Linked DNA regions of Homo sapiens. The protein of the gene in region 1 interacts with the protein of each later gene in a pairwise test. Each region holds a gene or a part of one and is shown in the gene's direction. Other genes may lie near its edges.

What was found.
Region 2: the proteins of PTPN9 (region 1) and SCAMP1 interact in binary tests that used the Homo sapiens proteins (3 or more experiments, as listed by UniProt).
Region 3: the proteins of PTPN9 (region 1) and FAM114A2 interact in binary tests that used the Homo sapiens proteins (3 or more experiments, as listed by UniProt).
Region 4: the proteins of PTPN9 (region 1) and GET1 interact in binary tests that used the Homo sapiens proteins (3 or more experiments, as listed by UniProt).

The regions. Positions count from the first base shown.
Region 1 is NC_000015.10:75,463,707-75,471,490, reverse strand, and holds part of PTPN9 (tyrosine-protein phosphatase non-receptor type 9), read left to right. Parts: intron 1-640; exon of another isoform or gene 641-660; coding exon 661-811; intron 812-1,491; coding exon 1,492-1,699; intron 1,700-2,507; coding exon 2,508-2,722; 3' UTR 2,723-7,784. UniProt on the Homo sapiens protein: Protein-tyrosine phosphatase that could participate in the transfer of hydrophobic ligands or in functions of the Golgi apparatus.
Region 2 is NC_000005.10:78,362,833-78,370,616, forward strand, and holds part of SCAMP1 (secretory carrier-associated membrane protein 1), read left to right. Parts: intron 1-7,784. UniProt on the Homo sapiens protein: Functions in post-Golgi recycling pathways. Acts as a recycling carrier to the cell surface.
Region 3 is NC_000005.10:154,028,590-154,036,373, reverse strand, and holds part of FAM114A2 (protein FAM114A2), read left to right. Parts: exon of another isoform or gene 1-132; intron 133-1,406; 5' UTR 1,407-1,420; coding exon 1,421-1,630; intron 1,631-1,996; coding exon 1,997-2,096; intron 2,097-2,490; coding exon 2,491-2,583; intron 2,584-6,793; coding exon 6,794-6,885; intron 6,886-7,784.
Region 4 is NC_000021.9:39,389,707-39,397,490, forward strand, and holds part of GET1 (guided entry of tail-anchored proteins factor 1), read left to right. Parts: intron 1-991; coding exon 992-1,157; exon of another isoform or gene 1,158-1,770; intron 1,771-2,062; coding exon 2,063-2,130; intron 2,131-3,459; coding exon 3,460-3,574; intron 3,575-7,159; coding exon 7,160-7,233; 3' UTR 7,234-7,784. Other genes in the region: GET1-SH3BGR (WRB-SH3BGR readthrough), read left to right, coding at 992-1,157, 2,063-2,130. UniProt on the Homo sapiens protein: Required for the post-translational delivery of tail-anchored (TA) proteins to the endoplasmic reticulum (ER).

The DNA.
Region 1 (7,784 bases):
GCTGGGACTACAGGTACCCACCACCATGCCTGACTAATTTTTGTATTTTTAGTAGAGATAGGGTTTCCATGTTGCCTGGGCTGGGACTTCAGGCTTTTACACAAACCTCCTGCTAACATACCAGTAGATGTGTGTTTATCAGTTTATCAGAGAGTTCTCTCTGACCTATCATATTTTCATATTTTCTCTACTCTTTTTTTTTCTTTTTCTTTTTCTTTTTTGAGATGGAGTCTCATGATGTTACCCAGGCTGGTCTCAAACTCCTGGTCTTAGGTGATTCTCCTGCCTAAACCTCCCAAGTAGCTGGGATTACAGGCATGCACCACTATACCCAGCTACTATACTGTTTTTGTCTCTGTTCACCCAGTATTTATCCCACATATGTGAGACGTACTATTGCGTATTAGGAAAAAGACCAAATGCTGTAGTAAGTGCTCAGTAACTGTCTGCTATATGAGTACATGCAGAAACTTTAGCTGTGAGTACATTTGTTTAGAATGAAGAGGTTTCCTTTCCTTTCTGCTGAGAATCAATGGTGTAAGTTAGAAGCAATGCAAGAGATGATATTGCTGCCTGGGGGTATATCAGGTCTTTGGGGAAGCCAGGTTACTGCTGTGGAGAGGAACGATGGAAGGCTTACCTTGCTCTGTGTGTCTTCAGCTTTGAGGAAGGCGGCAGGAGAAAGTGTGGCCAGTACTGGCCTTTAGAAAAAGACTCTCGGATCCGATTTGGCTTCCTCACAGTGACCAATCTAGGCGTGGAGAACATGAATCATTATAAGAAAACAACGCTAGAAATTCACAACACAGAGGTAAATCCAGGTTTCTTTTTTCTCACCTTGTTGAAACAGGGGGAGAATAATTACTGTAATGAAAATCTCCAGAGGGAATAGGTAGGATACCAGGGAAGTTATGAGTTGCTTCTGTTTTTCTAGGGACAGGATGAGGATATTTAACTCACAGCCAATATAGCCATATTACTGCAGCACGATAGGAACATTAAATAGGAGTAAAGCTTATAATTTTAGAAATCTGGGGCTGGGTGCAATGGCTTAGGCCTATAATCCCAGCACTCTGGGAGGCAGAGGTGGAAGGATCACTTGAGCCCAGGAGTTCAAGATAATCTAGGCAACACAGTGAGATCCTGTCTCTACAAAACATAGAACAAATTAGCTGGGCATGGTGGCACAAGCCTGTGAGGTCAAGGCAGCAGTAAGTTTGATCGTGCCACTGCACTCCAACCTGGGCAACAGAGTGAGATCCTGTCTCAAAAAAAATTCTGGATCTTACAGTATAGGAATTCTGCCTTTTCCAATTAACCAACCCTTCCTTTGGGTTTGTAGTAAAGAAGCAATTATGGGAAAAGTTGACAGTGGTGGATAGGAGCCTTGGTGGTAGGGATAACCAGGGTGTTGAGAATCTGGAAAAGCCAGAGGTAGCTAGGGGCAGGCAGAAATAACCTTGTTAACGTTTACTTCTTTTCTTATCTAAGGAACGGCAGAAACGCCAGGTGACCCACTTCCAGTTCTTGAGCTGGCCAGACTATGGTGTCCCTTCCTCAGCAGCTTCCCTCATTGACTTCTTGAGAGTGGTCAGAAACCAGCAGAGTCTGGCTGTGAGCAACATGGGAGCACGCTCCAAAGGGCAGTGCCCTGAGCCACCCATTGTGGTCCATTGCAGTGCAGGCATTGGCAGGACAGGTAACGCACCTAATGCAGCTCTTGGTGTCTGCAGGGGCAGTAGGGGTGGACGAGGAAAAACAAAGCTCTTAGCCCACATCTGTGATTGGAGAAGGAACTCACTTGCTCCCTTGGTGGTGAATTGCTGTGAAAAATCCCTCATCTAATGTCCTTTTGGTGGACCAAGTGATGGCCAGAATATATATTTCACAAGCCAAGTCCTCTAGGGGTTGATGTTTTATACACCCCATCATAACGCTGACTCTGTCACCTGTTAGAACTGTCACTGCAGGTATCCCAGAGAGCTCAGCTGGGCTGCTGCTTCCTTCCCATCCAGCCCTCCCTGGAGGGACTCCCCACCCTGTGCTGTGTTCTCCATTCTGGAGCCAGTTAGCAGCTTTTGCCTTAAGGGCATGTACATGGTAGGAAATGTTGGCCTTTCTATTTCAAAGGTCCCTTTGGGAGAAAGTTGAGAATAGGTTTTTGTTAGGCCTCTGAAAAACTTGTGGACTCTGGAAATTAGGTGTGGGAGTGCTGTCAGTCTGTCTGTCTGGGATTGAAGCAGGAAGTTCCCCTGTGTCACCTTCCCATTTCCACTTCCTGTTACCCCAAGTGTATGTCCTGAGAAATAAGAGGCCTTCTCATTTCTCTGGCCTCCAACACTCCCTGTGACCTCCTTCTTGAGTCCTTTCAGGCCTAAGGCCACCTGGCCTTCTGCCATGAGGCACTTTGCCTGTGAAGTCATTCATTCAGTTCTGCCTGGGTTATTTGGTAGAGGGAGGAAGAGAAGAGAGGTAAACCAGATGTGATCACTTCCTTCCTTCTTCAGGTACCTTCTGCTCACTGGACATCTGCCTGGCACAGCTGGAGGAGCTTGGCACCCTTAATGTGTTCCAGACGGTGTCACGCATGAGGACCCAGAGGGCCTTCAGCATCCAGACCCCTGAGCAGTACTATTTTTGCTACAAGGCCATCCTGGAGTTCGCAGAGAAGGAGGGCATGGTATCCTCTGGCCAAAACCTGCTGGCCGTGGAGAGTCAGTAACTCTCCTACGAACCTCCTACCTGTTGGCCAGCCTTCCTTAAACTACCCTGGACACCGCTGAGCCTATAGGTTGCCATCAGTTACGCTGAAGCCATGGATCAACTTCTTTCTTGTGTCTCCCAGCACACGTGTGCACGCAAGGCAGCCTTTCCCTTTGGCTAGATAAATGTGGTGAAATTGCCACTAGAAAGGGCCAGTAGCAATGTGTTCTTAATTCCTAGCATCTGCTATCAAACTGTGCCTTATTAAAACCAAATTGTGGCTATTGATTTTTGCTAGGGTCCCCGAGGTAAGTGGGGAAGGAACCTCCCTCCTCCTTTCTCCCGCCATTCTTTTTCTGAGGTCTCCTGTCTCCCACTCCTTCCCTTTCCTAGGATTTTATGGGGAGGTTTGATGAGCATTTGCCTTTCTCCCCAGAGAGCTTGACCAAGTTACATATTCTAGAGATCGTCCTGAGTGCCAAGCACGTTTATAAGTAGGGCGTGTATTCCAGTCCTTTCTGTCATTCTGTGTGTGTGTGTGTGTGCACTTATGTGTATGGGTCCATATGTACGTGTGTATATAATATATATTGTATGTGATAATATGATCGTATTCTATAAATACATATACACACGATACTCCTTTCCAGAAGTTCCTGGGGCTCCGTGTTGCAGTTCAGGACTCCTTGCTTCTTGGACCCTACTATTTATCCTGGACTAGCTTGGGTTGGTGATCATGTCTCCTCTTGTCAGGCTACAGAGTGGTGGAAGAGGACACACACACATCTCCTCCATGTTCCTGCCACAGGGCCCCTTCCTTAAGTAATGACTTATCTCCTTCCAGTTGCCACCTGTTGGAGCCAAGAATGTATTAGTTTGTGGTGACACTGGGTTAGCTCAGCATGGATTTCCCTTATCCGATGATTTTTCTACATTTACTTGGCCAATTTGGGGAACAGACCTCCACTGTGATTCCATACTCTCTCTTTGCTTTCACTATCCCAGGGATGGGAGGCGGAGGGTAGAGATGAACTCACTGAGCAGCCAGAGCCAAATGCAATCGGTACGAATCTTAGAAGGAAGGAGGGGGAGCCCAGGTATGAGAAAGAAAAAACCACTAAGAAAATACCTCCCTGGGAGGATGAGCTGGGGCCCTTTTTCTTTTGCTGGATGGTTCCTTTATGCAGCTTGGCCCTGTCTACCGAGATGCCCATCTCTTCCTGCCTGCTAGCCTGCTAGACCCTCAAACTGGGTGGGTTCTGTGTCAATAAAAAGCTTCACCCCCTGGCTGAGTGAGGTGGTCCCCTGCAATCACTGTTTGTCCCCTACCCACCCAACCTGTCCCTGCCTGCTCCCAGCCCACTCATCCTTATGTGCTAGGGATAAATCAAGAGTCCTCAGCACTCCACATTCCCAAAAAATCCCAGGAACTCCTAAACCTTCCCCTGTGACAGAAGATGAGGTTGGCAGCTGATCAGACCTCAATAATTTTATACTGTAATAAGCTCTTTGAATGTGTATATTATTATTTTTTACAATCATTTCATTTTGTATTTAATATCAATGGACTGAGTCTGATTCAGAAAATAATTGTAATGTTCATATTCAATATCTTACAGTGATACAGTTTTGTATTTACATATAAATATACCGACATGATCAAAACCCTTTTAGCTTCATCAATTTAGCAGCCTGGGACATGAGGGAGGGGGTCCAGGAGCTGGTCTGGGAGGGATGAGGGAGGCAGGGAGGGACCCAAGCCTTCAGTATCTGAGACTTTGAGTTCTGACACTATGAGTTCACCTTGTCTGTAGGCCATGGCCCTATCTCTGGACAGAGGGACCAGCACCAGTTCAGTGCTTGAGATGTGCTAAGCACTATGCTAGGTGCTTTTCCCCCACCCTGCCTCATTCAAACCTCACAACAATTCAGTGAGATATTATCTTCTCTCCCTTCTCCTGTGCACCCCTTTCTCATTTCTATATAGATGAGGAAGGTGAGGTCCAGAGGGTTACAGTGATTTGCTCTAAAACGAGCTCAAGTTGGTCTGCTTACAAAGCCTGTGGTCTCTTCACTGCATGGAAGATGGAGATCTTGTGTTTGGAGAACAGAGGTTTGTTTAGCTCTCCTTTCAGAGTAAAAAAAGTTCTTAAATTCCAGGTTGTTGTTCTTGTGCCCATGCTTCATGTAGTAGACGCGAAGGGTGACAGGGTTGGTGACTGACTGTCCTAGCTAGGACCTCCTGATGTAGGGTCCTCATGTCTGCAGCGTACCAAAGGGGTTATCATTCTCCCCAGGAGACTCCATATCTATGGGTACATGGTCTTTGTGAGAAGATCTTGAGTCATTTGCATTTATCTCTTAGAAAGAAAGGAACCAGAAGCTTTGTACATGGAAGACCACTCCCCATATCATACCTGTTGGCTGTTGATGGCCTGCCCAGTTGGGGCAGTTGTGGCTGGGAAATATTGGGGTGTTCTTAATAATAGTCATAGCAGCCAATTTACTGGATGCTCACTCTATTCCAGGCACTGTTCAGAGTAATTTCTAGGTATCATCTCATTCACCCTCAACAACCTTTTGAGGTAGGTATTGACAGAAGAAAAAAATTGAGAGACAGGAATGTTAATTTGCTACAGCCAGGATCCCAGACCATCTGACTCCAAAGTATCTTCTTTCACCTCTTACACTAGACTTCCTCTAAGGATCCATCTTCTGATCTGCCAATAAATTTTTATCGAGTTTCTTACCATAATCAGGAGCTCAAGTGTAGAGCAGAAGATTAATCTAGTTCCTTCTCCAGATGAGCCTCCATTCTCTTGGGAGTGCACAAACATAAGAAGTGAACAGAGATTCTTGGAAATCTGAGAAACCAGAGAGGTCAGGGGTTTGGTGGAACATGTAAGAAATGGGATTAATGATAAACGGCCTGGAGGAGGTAACTTTAAATTGTCATTTATTTGAAGAGGCTGTAACCCGACTGCCCTGTGAATTTAAGGTTATGCATGAGTTCCTCATTGCATATCTGAAGACTGGTGAGGTTATCTATCACTTCAGCTCCATAAAATGCTGATTTCTGGGCCCATCCAGTAGGTTGTTAGTGAGTGACAGGATTATCCAGGTTTGGGAACCATAGATTTAGTTCATGTTTCTGACCCTATAGAGAGTTAACAAATTGATGTCTCCTAAATTTTCAGTAAAACTCAGAGGAACTCCTCCCACTGCCATTGTTTGTAGCTTTTACCAGCGTGAACCTACCTGTGTTAGGTGTTAAAGGAGGAGGTAAAGGAAAGGGAAGGCAGAGACGCAACCCAGAATCTGTTTGGCAAGTCAGGGTTCTCATACAGGAGACTTAGTGAACAAAGCAAGAGAAAATGCTCAGGGTCCAAGTGCAGTGGCTTTATGCCTGTAATCCCAGTACTTTGGAAGGCCGAGGTGGGCAGATCACCTGAGGTCAGGAGTTTGAGACCAGCCTGACCAATATGATGAAACCCCATCTCTACTAAAAATATAAAAATTACCCGGGTGTGGTGGTATGTGCTTGTAATCCCAGCTACTCGGGAGGCTGAAATGGGAGAATCACTTGAATCTGGGAGGCAGAGGTTGCAATGAGCCGAGATCGCGCCATTGCACTCTAGCCTGGGCAACAAGAGTAAAACTCCATCTCAAAAAAAATAAATAAATAAAAAAGAAAGACAGTGTTCAGGAAAGAAGAAAACACTGAGCTAAAGCAGGCTTCTGCTTCTGATTTGATGGCTGTTTGTTTCACCTTTCTCTAACATTCCCATGCTATATAATTTTTCAAACATGAGATAATCCCTGTGTCCTTTTTCCCATTGCTCCCTTCATCTTGCCCATCCTCATTGGCTAGGATGGGACTCCTGAGACGAAGGGTGCCCCAGCATCCTCAGCCTCGGAGGCCCACCCTTATCAGTCTTCATGTGACAGTATGCAGGTAAATGACAGAGTAGGACTTGTTCTTGGGAGAATGGACTATTTAGCATCATAGCCCTAGGGAAATTTGGTTCCTTCCCTGAAAGGAATGCTTCCTGTCTCTTGGGACAGACAGACACACATACAAAAACTTTTATAAATCAGAGACCTAGAGGGAATTGGGCCAAGAGGCATTGGCCAAGTAGAAAAGCTTCTCTAGAGTGACCCAGCTCTTTTGTGGTTTTGAGGTCTTACCACTGAACCAAACCCAAGTCCTAGGTTCCCTCTGTAAAAGAAGGGGCTACACTAGATGATCCTACCATGGGTCCTCTGACTGTCAGGGTCCAGTTCTTTGTTAGACAGTGCAAACACCCATAGAGGAGCTATTAGGCCTTTACTTGGGTTGAGTTGGCTCCCACTAGCACTCCCCACTTTTCATTTTTTTTACTTTCAGAGACAGAGTCTCACTCTGTTGCCTAGGTTAGAGGGGAGTGGCATGATCATGGCTCACTGCAGTCTCAACAACTGGGCTCAAGCAGGAACCCAGCTTTTTTTTTTTTTCTCTCTCTCTCTCTAGAGACAGGATCTCACTATGTTGCCCAGGCTGGTCTCGAACTCCAGCCTCAAGCAATCCTCCTGCCTCGGCCTCCCAAAGTGAGAGGATTACAGGCATGGGCCACCACACCCAGCCTCTCCAGTTTTAGTGTGTTTTCAGAGTCTCTTCTTTCAAGCTGCTGCTACTTCCCTAGCTTCCCTCAGTTCTCTTCCCCCTTGGCCTTCCAATTGGAGGAAAAGCAGGTCAGGTCTCTGTCATCTCCAAGACCAGCCTATAGGCCTTTAAAGTTTCCCTGTTTCTTAATGTGGGGTCTACAGGGTTTCTCAGAGGCAAAGCATGAACAGACCAAGGGTCCTATAGCTCCCAACCTAGTCCTTAGATTTCTCTCTGGCCTTGGTTACTCCCACAAACCACTGTGAGCCTACCAAGGGCAGGAATGGAAATGCCCATCAGCCTGGGAACCATCTTTTTCTCTTAGGAGGTATCCGCCCTATAGTTACCTTTACACAACACTTGTGAATATCAAGTGTTCTAGACTGCACTGTTCATAATTGACTACAGAGAAGACTAGGATCTTCTCCACAAATAGAAA
Region 2 (7,784 bases), on another chromosome or scaffold:
ACTTAAATCTGAAATGTTTCTAGAATCATTTGAGTTACTTTATGATCATTTTTCTTTTTTTACTTTTTTTTTTTTTTTGAGACGGAGTCTTGCACTGTTGCCCCGGCTGGAGTGCAATGGCGTGATCTCAACTCACCACAACCTCTGCCTCCCGTGTTCAAGTGATTCTCCTGCCTCAACCTCCCTAGTAGCTGGTATTACAGGTGCCCGCCACCACACCCGGCTAATTCTTTGTATTTTTAGTAGAGACAGGGTTTCATTGTATTGGCCAGGCTGGTCTTGAACTCCTGACCTCGTGATCCACCTGCCTCAGTCTCCCAAAGTGCTGGGATTACGGGCGGGAGCCACTGCGTTCAAGCAGATCGTTTTTCTTTCTTTCTTTCTTTCTTTTTTTTTTTGAGACGGAGTCTCCCTCTGTCGCCCAGGTTGGAGTGCAGTGGCGCGATCTCTGCTCACTGCAAGCGCTGCCTCCTGGGTTCACACCATTCTCCTGCCTCAGACTCCCAAGTAGCTGGGACTACAGGCGCCCGCCACCACCGGCTGATTTTTTGTATTTTTAGTAGAGACGGGGTTTCACCGTGTTAGCCAGGATGGTCTCGATCTCCTGACCTCGTGATCTACCCGCCTTGGCCTCCCAAAGTGCTGGGATTACAGGCGTGAACCACTGGGCCCGACCCATTTTTCAAATCTGTTTTTATTTGCAGTATTTGAAGATAAAGCTCTTATTTTCAAGTATATGATATTTCGCATTTGGTAACTATGCTAATTTCTTTTTCATTAAATCCTATTTGTTTTCCATTGCCTTTTTCATTTTTTAGCATTTCTTTTCCTTCACTTTTATGTTAGGAATACTTCTGCAAGCATCTTCGTTTGTGCCGTATCATGAAAGTAGTTTGAGTCTATTCTCCTTATATAATATAACCATAGTGGTTTACTTGATTTTATTGGTTCTTGTAAGGCTATTTGCTGGATTCAGTTCATTTTTTTTTGTTGAGCCCCTGCTTTATATTCTAGTGGTTTTCCTAGGCTTAGTGAATGGTTTTATGAAATTTGAATGGCTTTCATTGCGCATCAAGAAACTTGGAATAACTGGAAATCTGTAGTGATCGAAAAGAAAATAGGTGATTAATTATATAGAAGTTTCTGAGGATCCACTCTTGAGCTGTTAAAATGGGGTTTTAAAGCTATAGAGGGAAAAATATTTTCTGTATAGTCAACATGTAATTATTGAAGAATTGCTGTATGTCCTTTGTTTTCTGTTGAGTTTATTCATTCAACAAATACTGAAGAAGTGTCTCTGTCCTTATGGCTATTAGTCTAACAGTGAGACAAATATGCTTGGAAAATGAATGAAAGGGGAGAGTTTAATAACCAGCAGAGGTCAGCAATATAGGCTCTTACAAGTCAGCATAAGAGTGTATGGTTAAGTGCCGGAACAAGTGCAGTTTGTTCATAAAAGGAAGAAATTAGTAAGTGGTCAGAAAATTTTCATGCTTTATGCTTTTGCATATTAACATGATAATTGATTGAATAAGATAGTTCATTATGGAAATAACATTTAAATTAATTTTTAAAATATGAAGAGAATTAGAATTTCACAGCTGGGGGGGCAAATTCTTAAAATATATTCAGTCAGATCTCATAGATTAAAAAACAAAGCCCACAGAGGCACACTTGCTCATTGTCTTGTGCCCATGTGTAGGTAGTGTAGAATTGGCATTAGAACTTAGGTCTCCTGATTTCTAGTCCATTACTGGTGACACTGTATGTGCTCCCTGGTTGCATTTTGATACCAAAATTCTTGTTTTGTATTTGGAGGTTAGAGTTGAGGGGAGGCAGCAGAGGATAGGATTAAAAAATTTTGGCTCAAGAATTTGAAAAGATCTGGGCTTGATCCTGGCTTTGACACTAACTGGTTGTGAGACCTTGGAAAGTTACTTAACCTCTTTCAGACTCAGTTTACTCATCGCGTGTTCTCACTCATAGGTGGGAATTGAATAATGAGAACACTTGGACACAGGGTGGGGAACATCACACACCGGGGTCTGTCATGGGGTGGGGGGAGGGGAGAAGGATAGGAGATATACCTAATGTAAATGACGAGTTAATGGGTGCAGCACACCAACATGGCACATGTATACATATGTAACCTGTACGTTGTGCACATGTACCCTAGAAGTATTAAAAAAGAAAGACTCAGTTTACTATTTTGTAAAATAGGGTAATAGTACATTCTCTATAGGATTGTAAATAGGATTAGATGAACATACATTTAGCATATAGTAAGAGCTTAATGTATAGTGGTTTTAATTAGGTACTAATATTTAGTATTAATAGTAATTTAAGAAATTCTGTTTAATGGCCAGGCGCAGTGGCTCACGCCTGTAATCCCAGCACTTTGGGAGGCTGAGGCGGGCGAATCACGAGGTCAGGAGTTCGAGACCAGCCTGGCCAACATGGTGAAACCCCGTCTCTACCAAAAACACAAAAAATTAGCTTGGCGTGGTGGCGGGCACCTGTAATCCCAGCTACTTGGGAGGCTGAGGCAGGAGAATTGCTTGAACCTGGGAGGTGGAGGTTGCAGTGAGCTGAGATGGCACCACTGCACTCCAGCCTGGGCGACAGTGCGAGACTCATCTCAAAAAAAAAAAAAAAAAAAAAAAAAAGTTCTGTTTAATAATCTCTATATGCTTAGCTATGAATTTAGTGAAATTTATGTTACTTTTGGATCTTCTGGAGTGCTGGTAGTAGCTGTTTGACTGATCATAGTCAAGGAATCAAAGCTAAAAATAATTAAGTGCTTTGCCTACATCAACCTGCTAGACTAGACCAAGGTTGTCTGAATTCTGGTGCTTTTTCACAACACGTAGTTCCTCCCTAATAAAATATCTCCATGTTAAAATTGAGCATAGTGTCCATTTTGTTTTGGCCTCAAAAATTAATTTTAGTCTATTGAAATTTTTTTTAGAAATGGCCTAAAATTCAGCATTCTCACTTATGTTATCTTTTAAGTTACAGTAATCTGGTGGCATTGTAAGAGTTGAAATTTAAAATTGAAAATGACCCATAATTCAAGTGTGTTATTCATTTGTCTTAGTCTGTTTGGGCTGCTGTAACAAAGTATAGTACCTCACAGTGGGTAATTTATAAACAACAGAAATTTATTGCCCAGAACTCTGGAGGCTAGGAAGTCCAAGATCAAGGTCCCAGCAGATTCAGTGTATGGTGAGTCCTTTTCCTCATTGATGGCATCTTCTTTGTGTCCTCACATGGCAGAAGGGGATGGCAGCTCTTTGGGGCCCTTTTCTTTTCTTTTCTTTTTTTTTTTTGAGACGGAGTCTTGCTCTGTCGCCCAGGCTGGAGTGCAGGGGTGCCATCTCGGCTCACTGCAACCTCCATCTCCTGGGTTCAAGCGATTCCCCTACCTCAGCCTCCCGAGTAGCTGGGATTATAGGTGCATGCCACCATGCCCAGCTAATTTTTGTATTTTTAGTAGAGACGGAGTTTCACTATGTTGGCCAGGCTGGCCTTGAACTCTTGGCCTCAAGTGATCCACCTGCCTCAGCCTTCCAGAGTGCTGGGATTACAGGTGTATGCCACCACACTTGGCCTCTGGGTCCTTTTTTTAATAGGGATATTAATCCCATTCTTGAGAGCAGAGCCCTGCTGACCTAGTCACCTCACAAAGTCTTCACCTTCTGATACCATCACGTTGGTGATAGGTTTCAGCATGTGATTTTTAAGGAAACAAACGTTCAGACCTTAGTTTTCATTTTGTAACATCAAGAATGTTATCCATCTTATTTCATTTACCTTGACAATGATACTTACAAGTTGATTTCACTCCTCCCTTATCTGTTTAAAATTTTGAGGCTGAGCTTGATAGCTCATGCTTGTAATCCCAGTGCTTTGGGAAGCCAAGGCAGGAGGATTGCTTGAACCCAAGAGTTTGAGACCAGCCTGGGCAACATAGTGAGACTTCCATCTCTACTAAAATTTAAAAGTTAGCTGGGTGTGGTGGTGCACACCTGTAATCTAAGCTACTTGGGAGGCTGAGGCGGGAGGGTGACAGAGTGAGACCCTGTCTCAAAAAAAAAAAAAAAAACCCAAAAAACAAACAAAAAAAAGATATAAAATTTTGAGTTTGGAGATTGGATAGCACTAGGAAAGTATTCTGAGGATTTCCTTTGTGATTGTCACATTTTGAAAACTGTCTTTTAACATTAATCTGGAACATAGTGGTTGCAGTTTGTGGGCCTGTGTTATTTTACGTTCATGTCAACTGCATGAATTCCTGCTCATTTTTCCTCATGTTAATGTTTTTAAAAAGCACATATTGAGCTGCTGTTATATTTCATCAACTTAAGATGCCATCCTTTGTAAGATGCACCATTATCTTATTTACCACTGTCTCACTTATCTGTTGCTATGTAACAATCCCAAAATATAATGGCTTAAAATAACAATTATTTGCTCACGATTCTGTTAATTGCGCTAGACTTAGCTGGGCAGGTTTTTTCTTTTTTTTAATGTTCTTTTCTGGAGTCACTAAAGTGGCTTCAGTCACCTGGTTTATGGTTTCAGATATCCTTACTCAAGTGCCTGCTGGTTACCTGGAGATGTCAGTGGGCACAGCAATTAGCTGTCTTTCATGTAGCCTCTCTACTAGTAATAAATGGGCTTTGTGCATAGTAGCAGCAGTGCTCCCAGAGGGCAAGAGCTGAATCTACAAGGCTTCTTGAATCATATGCTACTTCTGCTGTATTCTGTTGGTCAAAACAAGGCACAAGTTCAGCCTAGATTTTAAAAGGAGTGGCAAGCAATAGGCTCCACTTCTTGACTGGAGACAGACCTATGATCTGAAGATACACCTAGTATAAAATGGCGAGGTAGTCGTAGGATAACTTCACTAGACACTCCCATTCAAATAGGGAAAGAGTGGGAGGCGTGTAGCACCTGCTGATGCATAGCAGTTCTGAAATCTAGCCAGGCACGTGTTGTTAGGGTCCCCTACATTGGGGACAATGAATGTTTCTTGATTAGGGCCCAGTTCTGCTACCTCGTATTGGTTCCTTCACCTGTTATTTTCTTCTGCTTTTGGCTCCACCCTCTGAGAGGTCCTTTATTTATTTTTTTCTATAAGAATGAGCCCTTTTGGCAGCTGAGTAGCATTTTTGGCCTGCTTCTTGCCCATTGAAAATTGGGAGCCCAGAAGTTTCTATTAATTTTGAACTGTTTCTTTAGTCCAGGCTGTCACAACTCTCTTAACAGTTTCTTTTTAATCTTACCAGAGTTCAAACCATGCCTTAAAAACCACATTTGTCATTCTTTTTGAGACAATCTTCATTTAGGGTGAAGTGTCCGTTGCCATGGTCGGTATTCTTCAGATGTTTAGAAAACTTTTGTCTAGGTTGAGCATCTCATATGGCCAGGGGAAGGCTGCTGCCATAGGAGGCTGCTGTGCCACGTGACAAAACTAAGATTTGAACACAGTTTTATTTTGGCCCTGTAGCTTTACAGTCATATGAGATGATGGTGATTATGAAAATTTCGAAAGTAAACTGTTCTTGTGCTGATATTACCAAAAGTTTTTTTTGGACTATGATTAATATTTAATAGTGATAAATGCAGATCCAAATAATTTATTGGTTATTTCCTTAATATGAACCACCAGTGTGATATAGTTGCTGAAAAATATATATTGGCTTAGTGAAATTAGTGATCAGTTCCTTAAAATTAATAATCCTATAGTATTCTGTTCTGGTCTAATAGCTGGGTATTCTTCTCAATTGCAAGTGCATATTTAAAGAGTGGTTTGAAAATACTAGGATATGCCCAAAGAGGACAGTCAGAATGGTCATGGGACTGGAATCAAGTTCTAGGAAGAACAATTTAAGTTTCAATTACTCAGTGGATTTAGTCTACAGAGGGCTAAAGGGAAATAGGAGAGCTCCCATCAGATACTTAAAGTGTTCTTAGGTAAGTGAATAAACTTGTTATTTGTTGCTTTAGAAAAAGAATCTAAGGTTAACTGGCAAAGTTTACTTGAAGGTAAAGGTAAATTTTGTCCAAACAGACTTTTAAAAATCTGCTACCATGGCCTGACAATGCTCTTTTGGTAGGGCATTCTCCAGCACTTGCAGAAATTCAAGCAGAAGTTGGATAACCTACAGAGATGCCTAATTTCAATATTGTAATGTCTCAGGGAATAGGGAGACCCAAGGAGAGGGACAGAGAATGGGAACAACTGGTTGGTGGAATAGTCAGGACACACAATTTTTTTTTTTTTTTTGAGACAGGGTCTCTCTCTGTCTCCAAGGCTGGAGTGCAGTGGCGTGATCTCGGCTCACTGCAACCTCCACCACGCAGGTTCAAGCGATTTTCCTGCCTTAGCCTCCCGAGTAGCTGGGACTATAGGCGTGCACCGCCACACCTGGTTACTTTTTGTATTTTTAGTAGAGACGGGGTTTCACCATGTTGGCCAGGCTGGTCTCCAACTCCTGACCTCAGGTGATCTGCCTGCCTTGGCCTCCCAAAGTGCTGGGATTACAAGCGTGAGTCATCGTGCCCGGCCAGGACACATAACATTTATCAAGTAAGTTTGCAGTGTTATGGGCATGGTTTGTGGCACCCCAAGACAATTACAGTAGTAACATCAAGTATCACTGATCACAGATCACCATAGCAGACATAATGATAATGAAAAAGTTTGCAATATTGCGAATACTACCGTAGTGTGACGCTAGAGATGTGAAGTGAGCACATGCTGTTGGGAAAATGGTGCTGCGAGACTTGCTTGATGCAGGGTTGCCACAAACCTTCAATTTATTTTTTTAAAAAAGGCAATATCTGTGAAGTACAGTGAAACTAGGTATTCCTGCATTTTCTCTGTTCTAATATATCGACCATATTGGATATTGGAATTAAGTATGATCAGTTCAGCTAGAGAGGATGCTTTATGTTCAGAGACCAGCTATGCTCTGAGCCTCAGCTTCTGCTGAGGGAGCAGCCCTCATGGTAGCTTACACATTTGTGATCATGTCCTCTAGGGTGTGACTTTTGCCACCCTGGCCTCAGCTGACTGATCTTAACAAAGGTACTTGTCCAAAGCAGTGGAATAGCAGTTATCTCACTAGGCTTTTGAAGGCCATTTTCAAGAATTCCTGTCCTTCATTAGAGGTGTTTTTTAACTAGAAGGGATGTGCCATGTCATGAAGAATTTCAATCTCTGTGAAACCTGGCGTTCTTCTTTCTGTATATATCTTTAAAATATTCTCCTGCTCCCAGCATTTGGGGTGACCTGAGTGAGTCTGTCTGTTTCAACCAGAATTGCTAAACCGTAAGTGTAAAGTAACATTTTCTTGCCAAAAGGGTGATAGAGTTAAGCCTGTATTTAGACCTACAGTTTTTGGTGGTGTAGTGGAGTAATATACTTGCAAATATTGTAAGATGTTTTTAAATCACAAGGGAGAATTTTCCAACTTTCAGTGGGTGTGGGATATAAAAGGTGACATGGAGTTTGGTTAGATTTAACCTTGTAACAAGTCTCTGAGTTGTTCCTACTGAGGCAGTCTGTAATGTCCTGCAGCGTTTGACTTCATATGTGTAGACTGGTGTGGAAAACCCTGTTCTCCTTTCTGTGCAGAAGGCTTGCAGATCTATACCCAGAGAGCAATCCAGTAATCCCCTTCTCCTTGGCATTTGGCTTTGGGTGCTTTTCAGAATTAGTAATGTTTCTTTATCCATTGCTGGACACCTAAGTTGTTTCTGTTTTTTGTCTATTA
Region 3 (7,784 bases), on another chromosome or scaffold:
TATCTTGGCTTTAATTGCCAAAGAGCTCTACATCTGGAAGGAATTGAATTGAGTAACACTGGTATTCAAAAGTTGATCTGACATAAAGCCAATCTGATGGCTTAAATTTCATGATGTCCTGGAAAAATTGAGGTAGGAATGATTAATAACTAGTAAGATTTTTAAGGACAATAAGTAAAAGGAAAAATTGATAAATTATACCTCATTAAAATTAAAGACTTGCTCTGAAAGGCCCAATGAAGACAATTAAAAGATAAGCTACATACTGGAAAAAAATATTTGCAAACCACATATTATACAGAATATATGAAGAGCTCTCAAAACTCAACAGTAAAAAAAAAATCTCATTAGAAAATGGGCAAAAGATACAAAGATATTTCACTGACAAGGATATACAGATGGCATATAGGCACATGAAAAGATGTTCAACCTTATTAGGTCTTAGAGAAGTACAACTTAAATCCACAATGAGATATCACCACACAACTGTCAGAATGGCTCAAATAAAAAATAGGGACAATGTCAAATGCTGGCAAGAATGCAGAAAAACTTATCAGTCATACATTGCTGGTGGAAATGTAAAATGGTGTAGCTAGTCTGGAAAAGAGTATGGCAGTTTCTCATAAAACTAAACATGAACTTAACCATATGACCCAGCAGTTGCACTCTTGGTCATTTACCCCAGAGAAATGATAGCTTATGTTCCCCCAAAAACCTATACATGAACTTTCATAGCTGTTTTATTTATAATAGTCCCAAACTGGAAACAATACAGATATCCTTCGATGGATAAATGGGTAAATTGTGATACATCTATACTATGGAATACTACTCAGAAATAAAAAGGAAGGAATACTAATACAACTTAAATGGATCTTGAGGGGCTTATGCTGAGTGAAAAAAGTCAATGTCAATAGGTAATATGCTGTATGATTTCATTTATATAACATCTTGAAATGACAGAATTACAGAGATGGAGGACACCTGTCCATCAGAGAGATCAGTAATTGCTTTGGGTTGGAAGGAGTGTCGGAAGTGGTTATGGCTAAAAAAGGATAGCACAAGGGATCCTTGTGATTGAACTGTTCTGTATCTTGATTGTGGTGATAGTCACACAAAGGTATACATGCGATAAAATTTTATAGAACTAAATACAAATGAGTGCGTTTAAAACTGATAAAGTCTGAATGAGATCAGTGGATTGCATTGATATCAGTTTCCTGGTTGTGATATTATATTTGTGTAAGTTTTACCATTGGGGGAAACTGGATGAAGGTATATGGGATCTCTGTATTATTCCTTATACTTGTATGTGAATCTATGATAATCTCAAACTAAAAAGTTTAAACAAATACTTTATACCAAAGAAGCCTATATAAATTTTTTTTGGGCTTTCATTTTACCAGCTGATGTTCTAATCATGTCAGATAAAGATGATATTGAGACTCCACTGCTAACTGAAGCAGCCCCCATCCTTGAAGATGGAAACTGTGAGCCAGCCAAGAATTCTGAGTCTGTTGACCAAGGTGCCAAACCAGAGAGTAAATCAGAACCTGTAGTTTCCACTCGGAAAAGACCAGAGACCAAACCTTCCAGTGACCTTGAGACTTCAAAAGTTCTCCCTATTCAGGTATCACAGACCACAGAAAAAGTAGGGTATCTATTAAAATATTAGGATTAAAAAATGTTGGGGCTAAAAGAAATTTGGCATAAATACCAATTTAGAATTGCTCTTATTTCTTTCTCTTTACAACCCTAAAATACAGTCTTTTCAGTTCTATAAATGCCTTTATGAATAATTGCTTTTGCTATGTGGTACTTACATGCTGATAGCATATATCTGCCAGTCAAGCAATACATTTCTTTAGCTAAATAATATGTATTTGTTCACCCATGCTTTTGGCTAATAATTAGATACCTTGTCTGTACATTCTGATTTTCCTCTAATTTTTTCATTTTTCTTTGCCTTTTGTTTTTCTGCCTACTGGGAAATTAGGATAATGTTTCCAAAGATGTACCCCAGACCAGATGGGGTTATTGGGGGAGCTGGGGCAAGTCCATACTCTCCTCAGCCTCGGCTACAGTAGCTACAGTAGGTAAGATCATCAGTCATTTAGTTATTTTTGTGTGTGTATTTATTTTATACAGATCTGCATTGCATATGACTTGGTTAAAATTCTTCTTCCTTCCATGTTTACTCAAAGGCTTTATAATTTGAGGATGCATTAGTAATGATGGGCTGATATATACTGCCACTAGAGTTTGTAGCATTTCCTCATTAGAATATTGAAGTCTAGGAATTATTACTGTGAACTTATTCTTTGGTGATGATGAATCAATTTTTTTAAGGAAATAGTGCCAAGATTAGTTATGTATTGTCAAAATAACATGTCTTGTGGTCCTAAATGATTTTAAAAATCTTCAAGTTTGATTTTTGTTTCTTCAGTTTTGGTGACAAATAGCAAAAAAAAAAGTTATTTTTCTCATTAGGACAAGGCATTTCAAATGTCATCGAGAAGGCAGAGACTTCCCTTGGAATCCCTGGTCCCAGTGAAATTTCAACTGAAGTCAAGTATGTAGCAGGTCAGTATATGGAAACATAAAGACCTAGAATTATGAATTGAAATGGAACAGTTGAACTAATTTTTCAGTAGGTATTTATTGGACATCTGATACTCAGGGCATCGTGGGACTGTAGTGAGAAAGAGTATTTAGAATCTTTAGTTCCCAATTAGACATCTATGTCCTTTAACTGCTTATGTGTCCCTTTACTTCACTTTCCACATCTGAAATAGAATGATATTTTATATCTCAAGTGACTGTTATAAACATTTAACAAATAAGGCCATGAATATACAATATAAAAATTGCTTAGCATTTTGCTTGGCATAATTGAATAAGAGACTAATAAGAGTTAGCTGAATCTGAGTCTGTTGTGACATGATAAAAATATTTTAATGTATTGTTTTGGGGGTGTATTCCTTTTGTGTTCAGATTTTTATGAAGACTACGTTTAATTCTAGAGGCTAGCCTTGATCAGACAGAAACCTACTCTCAAACTATGAAGGCTAGAATTATAACCAGAAATCGAGAGGGCCTGGGACCAGAAAATAGGAATCTTTTCAAGGCCTGGTTTGCATTCTTCATCTCTCATGGGCTTTATTGTCTCTCACTCTTGTTTCTTTTTGCTGATCTGTCTCAGTTTTTTTCTTGAAGCAGACTGACTTTCGCTGCTTATTTTCCTCAGCTCCAGCTTTATATTGAATCCTGGCATCAGTTATTTCCACTTCTGAATTCCTAGGTAAAAGAATCAGTCTAAACTTGGGTCATATGTCCATGGATCACTTATGGCCTGGAGACAAGTCACATGTATAAACATGGCTGCAAAGGACTATGGATGTGAACTGGAGGCACTGTTCTTAGTGATGCCTGCATCAGTTAAACTATTTTAGCTGCAAGTAACAGCATGTGTGAATGAAAGTCAATATATTTTTCTTACTTAAGGACTCTAGAAGTAGGCTGTTCCAGAGTTAGTTTAGTGGCTCAATGATGTCAAGGTTCTGGGCTGGCTTCTCTACAGTATTCTTTGTTGATTTCTTTATAGTTTCTTTATGGTTGTCCGATAATACTGCAACTCCAAGTATAGTGTTCTAAAATAACCATGCTCAAAGTCAGGAATGAAGTAGATGGGAAGTGTCATTTTTCCTCATGCATCCCTCTTTCTTTAAAGAGGGGAAATGTTTTCCAGGAGTCCCAAGCATGTTTCTTCTCCAATGCCATTGCCTAGAACAGGATCTCATGTTCTTGATGTAGCAGCAAGAGATGCTGAGAGAGTGCGTTTTGGGCATTATCAGAAACCTCAAGATCAGGATATGGGTTTAGCAGCCAAGGAAAAAGGGGGTTAGAAGTGGCTTTGAATATGTTAACAGCAGCATCTTCATGACACTGAAAGATATCTACCACAGAGGGCCATGTTTTAAGAAGGGCTTTGAAAAACTGGGTGAATCCAGAAAAGAGTCAGCTAGATAGTGTGAATCAAAAAGTGTCTGAGACAGGTCTCAATCAAGTTAGAGGTTTATTTTGCTAAGTTTGAGGATGCACCTGGGAAAAAGGAACACAAACCACAGAAACAATCTACCTTCCATACTTTTTTTGAAGAGGGTCTGGTGACTTCAATATTTAAAGGAAGAAGAGTGGGCTCTAGGGGAAAGAGGAAGTAAAGAAAGGGGAGGGTAGATAAGAGGGGCAAGTGGTTGCCTTCTTTTGAATCTTTGATCAGTGTTCACTGAATCCACATTTTACGTGTAAAAGGAAAGAGCAGAGGTAGAGTCAATTATGTATTTGTCTTATGCTCAGTAAATTGGCAGTTTACATGAAATAAAGTAAACGTAGAGTAGCTACCTGTGGAAACATCTGGCCTTCTGTCTGGCCTTTCTGCTTAGGAACAAAAGGAAAGACAGTTTTTGTGTAACTTAGCTTTCAGCTTAACTGTTCCCTTTGGCATAGTAAATTTGGGGTCCTGAGTTTTATTTTCTTTCACAATAGTGAAATGTCTAGAATTAAAGTCTTACAAGAGAAAGTCTTATAAGAGATTGAATCTGGTAATCTGGAGAAGGGAGATTGGGAGAATATCCTGGTCTTTTTCTGAAGACTAGCATGGAGAAGAGGATTAGGTTTATTATTCATGGTTTATGGGGAGAACTAGTAACTAGTACCACTCAGTGGAAGTTATATAGAGTTAAGTTTTAGTTTAATAAAGAGTTTAACAGGGAGAACTTTCCAAAATTACAATGGACTGCCTTTTGATACTAAACCCCTTCTATCTTCTAAAGTTCCTGAGGAAGGAGGTTAATTCCTCTGCCAAGGATGTGTCTTGTAGTCAACATGTATATTTTCAGAATTTTGAGATAAGCATAGGCCATTGATGGAAATCATTGATCATCTATTAGGGATTTTGTTTTCTTCCTTTAAAGGGGGCTATCTTCTGCTTTCCTTTTGTCGGCGGGCAGTTAAGGTATTTGCAACTTAAATTGATGCTTTAAGGCTTTTTTTTTTTTTTTTGGAGAGGGAGTCTCACTCTGTCGCCCAGGCTGAAGTACAGTGGTGCGATCTCAGCTCACTGCAGCCTCTGCCTCTTGGGTTCAAGTTCTTCTCCTGCCTCAGCCTCCCAAATAGCTGGGATTGCAAGCATGGGCCACCATGCCTGGCTAATTTTTGTACTTTTAATAGAGGTGAGGTTTTGCTGTGTTGGCCAGGCTGGTCTCAAACTCCTGACCTCAAGTGATCCTCTTGCCTCGGCCTCCCAAAGTGCTGGGATTACAGGTATAAGCTGCTGTGTCTGGCCAAGACTTTTTGTAAAGCTTGTTTAGGGTGAGTCTATAGTGGCCTTTACTCTAACTAAGTACTGTTTATCTCTGCTGCTAAGGCTTGACTCTTCCGAAGTCTCCACCTTAATTCCCAGGTGTTTAATATAAAGTCTCTGCTTTTGTGGTTGGAGGTCAAATGTCTCTCAGCCTAGCGTGAGCTCTGGGGATTGCTTAGCTTAGAGCTCCATGGTAGTTCTTTGTACAGACTTATGGAGCCTCCCAGTGCCTCAGCAGTGCAGTATTTAAGCAAAAACACCTAAAGGTGTCTTAGGGCATGCCTATGCGGATTCTTAGAACTTTTTAGCTATGTAGCTTCCTCCTCTACGGTTTTCTGACCTGCAAATTCCGATTGCTTCAGCATTCCCAGATTCCAGTCTCCGTTTCTTCCACTCAAACTGATTGCCATGCCCTACTTGGGTTTCTCCTCCCTCTGTCATGGCCTGGAAAGCTCCTCTATACAGAAAGCCAAGCCAATTGTAAGGTTTACTTTGTTGTTCTTCTTGTGTGAACCGAAGTCTTGTACTGCCTATTGTCCTATGTCTGAAGACAGTTGCTTCTTATATATTGTCCAGTTTTTCAGTTGTTGTGGCAGGAGGTCATATCTAATACCAGTTAATCCATCATGCTAGAAGTGGAAGTCCTCTCTATAATATTTGATAATACTGAAATTATTTGGTATAATGGTTGTTCTCCTATGTGAAATTTTTAAGTTAATGGATTTTTGTTTTGAAACATACCTATCTTTGTAATGTATGTCTGTTTGATTTCTACTAATCATAATTTTCTAGGATAAAATTTAAAATAGACTGGATTTTTAAAAATCAGGTTTATCAAATTATAATTTACACACAGTAAAATTTATTCTTTTTAGGTGTACAGTTTTACATGTTTTGATCAGTATATATACTTCTGTTTATACTGTGTAATCATAGTACACTGTGATTATACAGATATAGAAAACATTCTATATAGAATGATCAATACAGATATATAGAATGTTTCCTATATCTGTATTGATAATTGAGACATAAGAAAATTTTTATTACCCCAAAAAGGTTCTCTCACGTCCTTTTGTAGTCACTGTTCTCCTTACTCTCAGTTCTTAGCAATTACTGATCTGTTTTCTGACCTTACAGTTTGACCTTGTCCAGAAGATTATATAATTGGAATCATACAACATATAGGCTGTTGTATATATCAGCAGTTTGTTTACAAAACTGGATTTTATTTTCGAAATGAAAAGAAAATGAAAACTGCCTATCTTAGCTTTCATTTTAAAATAAGCAAATGGTTTAAAATGATAAAAAGGGCTAAGGCCTAGTATGTAGTAAGCAGGGTCTAGTTTTAAAAAATTCACATAGATGCTAATAAAGCCTGAGAGTTAAGGGACCTTCCCTTCATGTTTACACATCCCCTCCCTCTTGTAGGAGAGACAAATGCCAAAGAGAATGAAAACTCCTCCCCAGTGGCTGGGGCATTTGGTGTATTCTCTACCATCTCTACTGCTGTTCAGAGCACAGTAAGTAAAAAAGTGCAAGGTGGTCTGTTCCTTTCCATTATTATAATGGGTTTGCATATCTTTCTCTCTCTTTTCTTTGAACAGCCATGTGGACTGATTACTTTTAAAGGAGTCCAAGCCACTGAAGATCGGTCACTTTGGTCTTATGGGTGGAGTGAATGCTACTTGAAAACTTTCATTAAAGCAATAAGGAAGAAAGTAGGAAATAAAGGAGTAGCAATAAATAAGGGAGTAGGAGTTACAGAGAGGCAATATACGTATTATTTTATGGATTAGGAATTCTTAATTTGGTGGCCCTAAAAAATGTCTACTTTACAAAAATATTTTTCTCATAGTTGCATCTTTTAGGCAAAGGGGAAATGTGATCTTTATGACAGATATTTGCAAAACTATGTATGATTAAAAACATTTGTAAGAGGATTATCTAGGAAGCTAAATATCTTTGCTACATGAGGATAGATAGCTAGTTTTTTTTAAATTTTAACTTTTTATTGAAATATACATACAGAAGAATGTAACAAGTGTTGTTTGAATTTTCAGTGTGAAACACCCAGAGTAAGAAACAGTATTACCGTAATCAGATCTCCCCACCATCTTGTGTCCTCTCCCAGTTTTCTGTGTCTTCTGCTCTCCCCCTCTCCTGCACCAAGATAACCATAATCCTGACTTCCACCATCATAGGTTAATTTTGCCTGCATTTCAGCTTTACATAAGTGGAATCATATATAGTATCTAACTTCTTTCATGCAACATTATATTTGTATAATTTACCTATGCTGCAGTTTGTGTGGTAGATTTGATTTTCTTTGTTGTATTTCATTGTGAAGCTTTGTCACGTTTTATTTATTCATTCCACAGTTGGTGAGCATTGGGGTAGTTTTCAGTTTGTAGCTATTACA
Region 4 (7,784 bases), on another chromosome or scaffold:
CCTGGCCCTGATGCCTCTTGCCAGGGTGCCATTCTGTGGGAAGGCCCTCTGCACTGAGCTTGGGCACTGACATTCTGCCCTGGGCCCCTGCCTCACCACTGTTACCCTGCACCTGCACCTTGCTCTGCCCCGTCTAATCTAGGACTGAATTCTTCTGGGAGGGGAGAGGTTACATGTTCCCTGTCACTGGAATAACAGCTCTGGTGATGGAATTGGTTTTCATTTCACAATTGCAATTTTATTTATAGTGAAACAGACAAACATTTGTATTGGAGCAAATTCATGGGCATATCTGTAAAAGGAAAAATATAGTTTGAATAGCAATTTGAATATGAGTTTTTTTTTTTTTTTTTTTTGTGGTCGTTATAGGGAGCCGAAAAAGGCAGCAGAGGCTGGCTGTGTAGGTAGAGGGCAGCTTGCCCAGTTGGCAGAGGTGGGAGTAGGATGTTGGAGGAAGGTGTACCGGTTCTGTCTGGCCAAACCCATGCTGGAGTCACCTCAAAAGCAGTGGCAGGGGAGTTCCCTCAAGGGGCTGCTCCAGACTGCCTGGAGATGGGGCTGGCTTGGATTCCAAAGAAAGAAGCACTAAACGCCAGGGTGATAAGTCCACAGCATTCATGACGGGAACTTACAAGAGCTGCGGCAGTCCCGGGACAGCCAGTGAGAGAAAGGGACATTTACCTAGGGCTGTCTGCCACCCGGGGGTTGGGGTATGGAGTGTATGTGGGAGTTTAAGGACTTTGTCATGGTGGGGCTAGTTTGTAGGTGTTTCTCAGCAGGATGAATCTCCCAGTGTTCTCCAGCAACAGCCTTTGCTCTTTATCAGTCCTGGGAACGTTCACGGCCGCAGTTTGCATTCAGTCCTGCAGGGACGCACACAACTGGCTGGGTCACAGAGTGGTCAGGGCATAGACAGAAAGTAGCGGGGGACTGGGGAACCCTCCTGTGACCCGTGTTGGAAGGTGCTGATCCCCGTTGTCCGCCCTGCCAGATGTCCAGGGTGCTGCAGAAGGACGCGGAGCAGGAGTCACAGATGAGAGCGGAGATCCAGGACATGAAGCAGGAGCTCTCCACAGTCAACATGATGGACGAGTTTGCCAGATATGCCAGGCTGGAAAGAAAGATCAACAAGATGACGGATAAGCTCAAAACCCATGGTACTGTGTCCCTTGCAGCCTGGAGGCTTCATGAGAGCGGATGAATAGAGAAGTCTGTATGTGAAGATTAGTAGAATACATACTTTGCTTCTTGGATGTTCTGAATATTGATGGAAACTTAAGTTATCTGGAGGAAACTCAGTAATAAGTATTACTTTCCTCTTATTTGCTGGTGAACCTTTGCTTTCTAAGCACAGAAATATCTAAGATCCTCTCAGATTTTCCTCAGAGCCAACTCTTTAAAATTTTAAGCTAACTCTTAAAAATTGTAGGTTTTCATTTTTAAATTCATCACTTTTCTGAGAGAAGCCCAGAAAAAAAGTCTCACAGTGGATTCCCAGAGGCTTTTGTTCCACTCTCTAGAAAAATGCCCAGCAGTGTCCTCTTCTGAGTGTCACCTCCCGGGTCCAGTGTCCTGTGATGAAGAGCGCTTTCTCAGGGCAGCCCGTGTGCTGAGGGACCCCGGTCACAGTGTGTGCACAGTCAGAGAGCTGTCTCTGTGGCTAGGAAAACAGACAGAGGGGCCTGTCCAGGCCCAGGACAAGCTGGACTCCCACCAGGGGTTCGTGTACTGTGCACACTGGGAAATAAGGAGGAAAATTTAGTCCTGTTGGTAAGTGGTAACTGTATTATACAAAGAATCTTTGATTTCATGAGTCGTTTTAAGAGTTTTCAAAATTAAAGCTATTCAAATCTCAATCTGAGTCGGATACTATTTTAAATAATGGCATAATGAGATGGTGGGTGACTTAAAAATTCTATTTTATATTTTCTAAATATGTTGAGCGATTGTTCCATTTATAATCAGAAAGTGTATTATAAGGGAAAATAACATTTCTGTGTATTTGAATATTTTGTTAATTTTTCAGGACTGACATAATTATTTATCCTGTTTTTCCTTTCAGTGAAAGCTCGGACAGCTCAATTAGCCAAGATAAAATGGGTGATAAGTGTCGCTTTCTACGTATTGCAGGTAAGTGTGCTAGAGCGTCAGCCGGGTCATTGGAGTTGGTGACCCCGGCCTCCAGAGCCGTGTCTGCAGATCCAGGGCTGGGAGTTCGGGCTGTTCCACCTTCAGCTGTCGTGTCGTGTGTCCCTGCCCACATGGAGCTCTAAACACTCTCGGTCTCTAAGTCAGACTAAAAGGAAGCCTTTCTCTTGAGGAGAGTTGTTAAAGTTTGGGACTTTTTGGCAGATGGACTGTGAAGTAAGTTCTCGGAGAGCTTTCACCATGCCTGCATCCCAGTGTGGTTTGAAGGGCCTGGTGGGATGAAGCGAGAGGCTTATAGATGACATCAGTTTTTTCTGAGATCTTCAATACTTTTGGCCCTTACTTGTTACCTGGTGTACTTCATGCACGCTCTCCACCCTCCAGGTAGAGAACCAGCTTTTCCGACTGGAATTGGCTTCTAGCCTCCCTGCCTGGGGCTTAACCCTCATAGCCTCTCCTGGAGCTGTTGGGCTCTGCTCTGCCCCGAGAGTGCAGTTGTGCTGCCCAGACACCTTTAGCAGCTGCCGTAAATATCCGAGTTGCAGTACCATGTGATCCGGTAACCAAGGCAAAGGATTCAAGCCCACCCCCAAAAAAGCTTAGTTTGGCAGGGTATATTGAAGGAAATTAATTCTGAGGCACTGTCATTTGCTAAGAGATAAGTTTCCGCAGACAAAGGAGTTAGGCCAGCAACCCTCTTTCATGTCTCTTCTGAGCGGCCTGTTCAAGCCAGGAAGGGGACAGATGACAATCGAAGGAATGCTGTGGGGGGATGGAGGGAAATAAAGCATCCCCCACCATTGAAACTTACACAGGGCTCACCTCTGCGTCCCTTGCTAACACTGGTGTACGTGGGAGAATTCACTATTTTTTCCAAGGATGGCTTTCGTCACTAATAAGGTGTGTTGAGCATACAGTCTGGCTACTCAAACGAGATACTCAGTGAGAAAAGCACACCCGTGTTATGGGAGACTTTGGTTAGTTTATCAGCTAATTTAAATTATGTGTAGATTGTGTTCATCCTAAAACAGTGAAATGCCAGTTCACATAGGAAGGCTCGCCTACTTGTTGGCAGTGTTCAGACATGCTGCTGAGCTCGTCTTTAATTTGACTTTCTCATTCAAGGTTTCACCAAGGGACATTAGTGGCTGTGCGTGCTCATCTGTTGTCTGTGGGGACTGGGTTCCTAGGCTTGAGGTGCTCAGTCTGGAGAGTTTTCCTGGTTTTATTTTCGCATTTCCCTGTCCTCCCTTCTGTGTGGTCGGTTGTGTGATTGGCAGGCTGCTTTGCTCACCAGAGGTGTCTTTACAGGCTGCCCTGATGATCTCACTCATTTGGAAGTATTATTCTGTCCCTGTGGCTGTCGTGCCGAGTAAATGGATAACCCCTCTAGACCGCCTGGTAGCCTTTCCTACTAGAGTAGCAGGTAAGAATTTTCTGGAAGATGCAGTGGAAGAGTGTGAATAGGCTTATGTAGAGGTGTGTGGTAGAAGATTAAGTTAGCCTGACATCCTCCTCACCGTCCATTTAGTGAGCGGGGTTTTGTGTCTCAGCCTCACATGAGGCTTCCCATGAAGAAACTGAGGTCTGAAAAAGTTACTTCACTTGTCCAGTGTCACCAAAATGTTAAGGAGCAAAGCTAGGATTCAGTCCTAGGTCTGTTTCCGGGATCCATGCCCAATACGTCAAGTCTGATACCCCATTGAAACACTAGCCGTAGTTCCAAAATTATGTATCTTTTCAATCCCTATTATGGTTGGCTTCTCTGTAGCACTTGCTGCTCCTGGCTATTCTTTTATTTTTTATTTTTTGAGACTGAGTCTCACTCCGTCACCCAGGCTGGAGTCAGTGGTGCGATCTTGGCTCACTGCAACAACCTCTGCCTCCCAGGTTCAAGCAATTCTTATGCCTCAGCCTCCCAACTAGCTGAAATTACAGGCATGCACTACCACGCCCAGCTAATTTTTGTATTTTTAGTAGAGACAGCGTTTCACCATGTTGGCCAGGCTGGTCTCAAACTCCTGACCTTAAGTGATCCTCATGCCTTGGCCTCCCAAAGTACTGAGATTACAGGCATGAACCACTATGCCCAGCCACGTTCTTTTATTTTTGAAGATAAATTTTTTTTAGATATTAAAAGTAGTACATGTCACTATAGAATGATTAGAAATATAGCTATCAATTAAAAATCCCAGCTGGGTGCAGTGGCTCACGCCTGTAATCCTAGCACTTTGGGAGGCCAAGGTGGGCGGATTGCCTGAGCTCAGGAGTTTGAGACCAGCCTGGCCAACATGGTGAAACCCTATCTCTACTAAAATACAAAAAATTAGCTGGGCATGGTGGTGCGTGCCTGTAATTCCAGCTACTTGGGAGGCTGAGGTGTGAGAATCACTTGAATCCGAGAGGTTGCAGTGAGCTGAGATCACGCCAGTGTACCCCAGCCTGGGTGACAGAGTGAGAATCTGTGTCAAATAAAATAAAATAAATAAAAAATAAGATTCCTATTAGCTTTTAATGCTGTGATATGTTTTTCTTTGCCTTTTTTTCCCCATTTATTTTGATATAGTTAAGGTCACCTGGCACATCACATGTTGTGCCTCCTTTTTACTTTATAGGGTAAGCCTATTCCCACATGTTTTAGTTTGTTAGGGTTAAGTGAAATACTATAAACTGGGTAGCTCATAAACAACAGAAATTTATTTCTCACTGTTCCGGAGGCTGGGGAGTCCAAAATCAAGGTGCCGGCAGATTTGGTGTCTGATGATGGCCCATTTTCCAGTTCATGGATGGTGTCTTCTCACTATGTCCTTGCATGGTGGAAGGACAAGCTCCTTTAGGCCTCTTTTATAAGGGCACTAATCCCATTCACACGGACTCTGCCCTTGTGACTTAATCACCTCCCATAAGGCCCCAATTCTTAATGCCATCACTGTGGGGGGTAGCATATTAGCATATGAATTTTAGGGGGATACAAACATTCAGACCATAGCACCATATCAGTACATTTCTTTTCTTTTTTTTCTTCTCTTTTCTTTTTGAGGCAGGGTCTTGCTCTGTTGCCCAGGCTGGCAGTGGCACCCTCATAGCTCACTACAGCCTGGAACTCCTTGGCTCAAGCGGTCCTCCCACCTTAGTCTCCTGAATAGTTAGGATCACAGTTGCACACCACCATGCCCAGCTAATTAAAAAAAAAAGTTTTTTATAGAGATGGGGTCTTGCTTTGTTGCTTAGGTTGGTCCCAAACTCCTGGCATCAAGCAATCCTCCCTCCTCAGCCTCTCAAAGTGCTGGGATTATAGGTGTGTCACCTTGCCTGGCAAATTTCTTTATTAAGGAATTTTCAGTAGCTGTTCTTCATTTAGATATCTCATTTGCAGATTTTCCTGATGAAGGATATTTATTCCGGTCCTGATTTTTTGCTATTAAAGATAATGCTGCAGCACACATACTTGCTGGTCTTTGGTTGTGATTTGTGATTATGTTAGAGGTGAATACTGTATCAAAAGGAATGACTATTTTTTTTTTTTTTAAGACCGAGTCTCACTCTGTCGCCCAGGCTGGAGTGCAGTGGTGTGATCTCTGCTCACTGCAACTTCCACCTCCCAGGTTCAAGTGGTTCTCCTGCCTCAGCCTCCCCGGTAGCTGGGATTACAGGTGCCCACCACACGCCCGACTAGTTTTTGTAGTTTTAGTAGAGACAGGGTTTCACCATGTTGGCCAGGCTGGTCTTGAACTCTTGACCTCAGGTGATCCACCTGCCTTATCCTCCCAAAGTGCTGGGATTACAGGTGTGAGCCACTGTGCCTGGCCAGGAATGGCTGTTTCAAAGACTCCCAATTTAGCTACCACCCCTGTCCCCTTCCCCACCCTTTCCTTCCCCTCTCCTTTGTTTGACACAGCTGGGCCTAGGCCAGGAGCTCTGCACTGCGGCCAGAGAAGCATCCAGCCACCCTTCCATGCATCCAGCAGGTCCATGGGTCACTCTTGCAGCCTGTCTTCCTGGACAGGGGGATATGTATGCCTCTCCATTATTGGTGGGGCAAGAAAGGCATAGGTAGACATTGCTTTGTTTATAATGCTTTCTGAGAAAGGAAAAATAAATAATCTTACAGGTTTGGTTTTGGAATCTATTAATATCATAAATAGTAATGCACATCTCTCTGGCAGGAAAGGGAAATTCAGCCCAGGGTCCACCGTTCACTGCAATTCCTGCTTAGTAAAGAATACAGCCCTATGATTCTATAGAAAGTGACAAATTCGGGCTGGGAATGGTGGCTCACACCTGTAATCCCAGCACTTTTGGAGGCCGAGTTAGGCAAATCATCTGAGGTCAGGAGTTTGAGACTAGCCTGACCTACATGGTGAAACCGTGTCTGTACTAAAAATACAAAATTAGCCGGGTGTCGGCCGGGTGCGGTGGCTCATGCCTGTAATCCCAGCACTTTGGGAGGTCGGGGCGGGCAGATCATGAGTTCAGGAGATCGAGACCACGGTGAAACCCCATCTCTACTAAAAATACAAAAAATTAGCCGGGTGCGGTGGCGGGCGCCTGTAGTCCCAGCTACTCGGGAGGCTGAGGCAGGACAATGGCGTGAACCCGGGAGGTAGAGCTTGCAGTGAGCCAAGATCGCGCCACTGTACTCCCACCTGGGTGACAGAGCGAGACTCTGTCTCAAAAAAAAAATTAGCCAGGTGTGGTGGTGCACACCTGTAATCCCAGCTACTCGGGAGGCTGAGGCAGGAGAATCGCTTGAGCCCGGGAGGCAGAGGTGCAGTGAGCCGAGATCGCACCATTGCACTCCAGCCTGGGGGACAGAGCGAGACTCCGTCTCAAAAAAAAAAAAAAAAAAAGAAAGTGACAAATTTGAACCTATGAAACATAAACTTCACTTCAGCCCAGCACTGCTCAAAAAGAATGGAAATACTCTCTTTGCTGTGAGTTAAAGACAGCAGAGACAGATGGGGGCAGCACTGCTGGTATGCGCTCTCATGGTGAATGTCTTTGTTTTCAGGTGGTGTTGGAATTACCTGTTGGATTTTAGTCTGTAACAAAGTTGTCGCTATTGTGCTTCATCCGTTCAGCTGAACAGGAGGATGGATACAGCCGCGAGGCTAAAAAACGGATTTCCTCTTCCTAGCTTAAAATCTGATTTACACTGTTTTGTTTTTTAAGAAACAAAAGTGCATAGTTTAGATTTTTTTTTTGTTGAATATGTTTGTTCTTGGACTTTATGAGAGAGTCTTATAAGAATCACGATTTTCTACACCTGTCATTGAGCCAAGAAAGTCCAGTTTATGACACGTATGTACTAGTGAACACCGTCCTCGATCTGTACGAAATGTGAAATGTTTAGGGACATCTCCATGCTGTCACTTGTGATTTGCCCTCTTATGTATTTTGGTCATATTGCCAACTGGAAAGTCAAAATTTTCTAACAACTTTAAGTAAGTTCTTTGAAGACTTAGTGCTGTTTTTAATCCAGTTTAGAAAGTAACTTAATTTTAATACCACTACTAAAAATTCGAAAATTTCTTCTTTAATCACATTCAATATGGTTAAAAGAACAACACTAATTGACATTGCGTGGGCTTTTTCTCCCTTTGTTTAAAATGTCATTTGTTGAGCAAGAGTTGTAT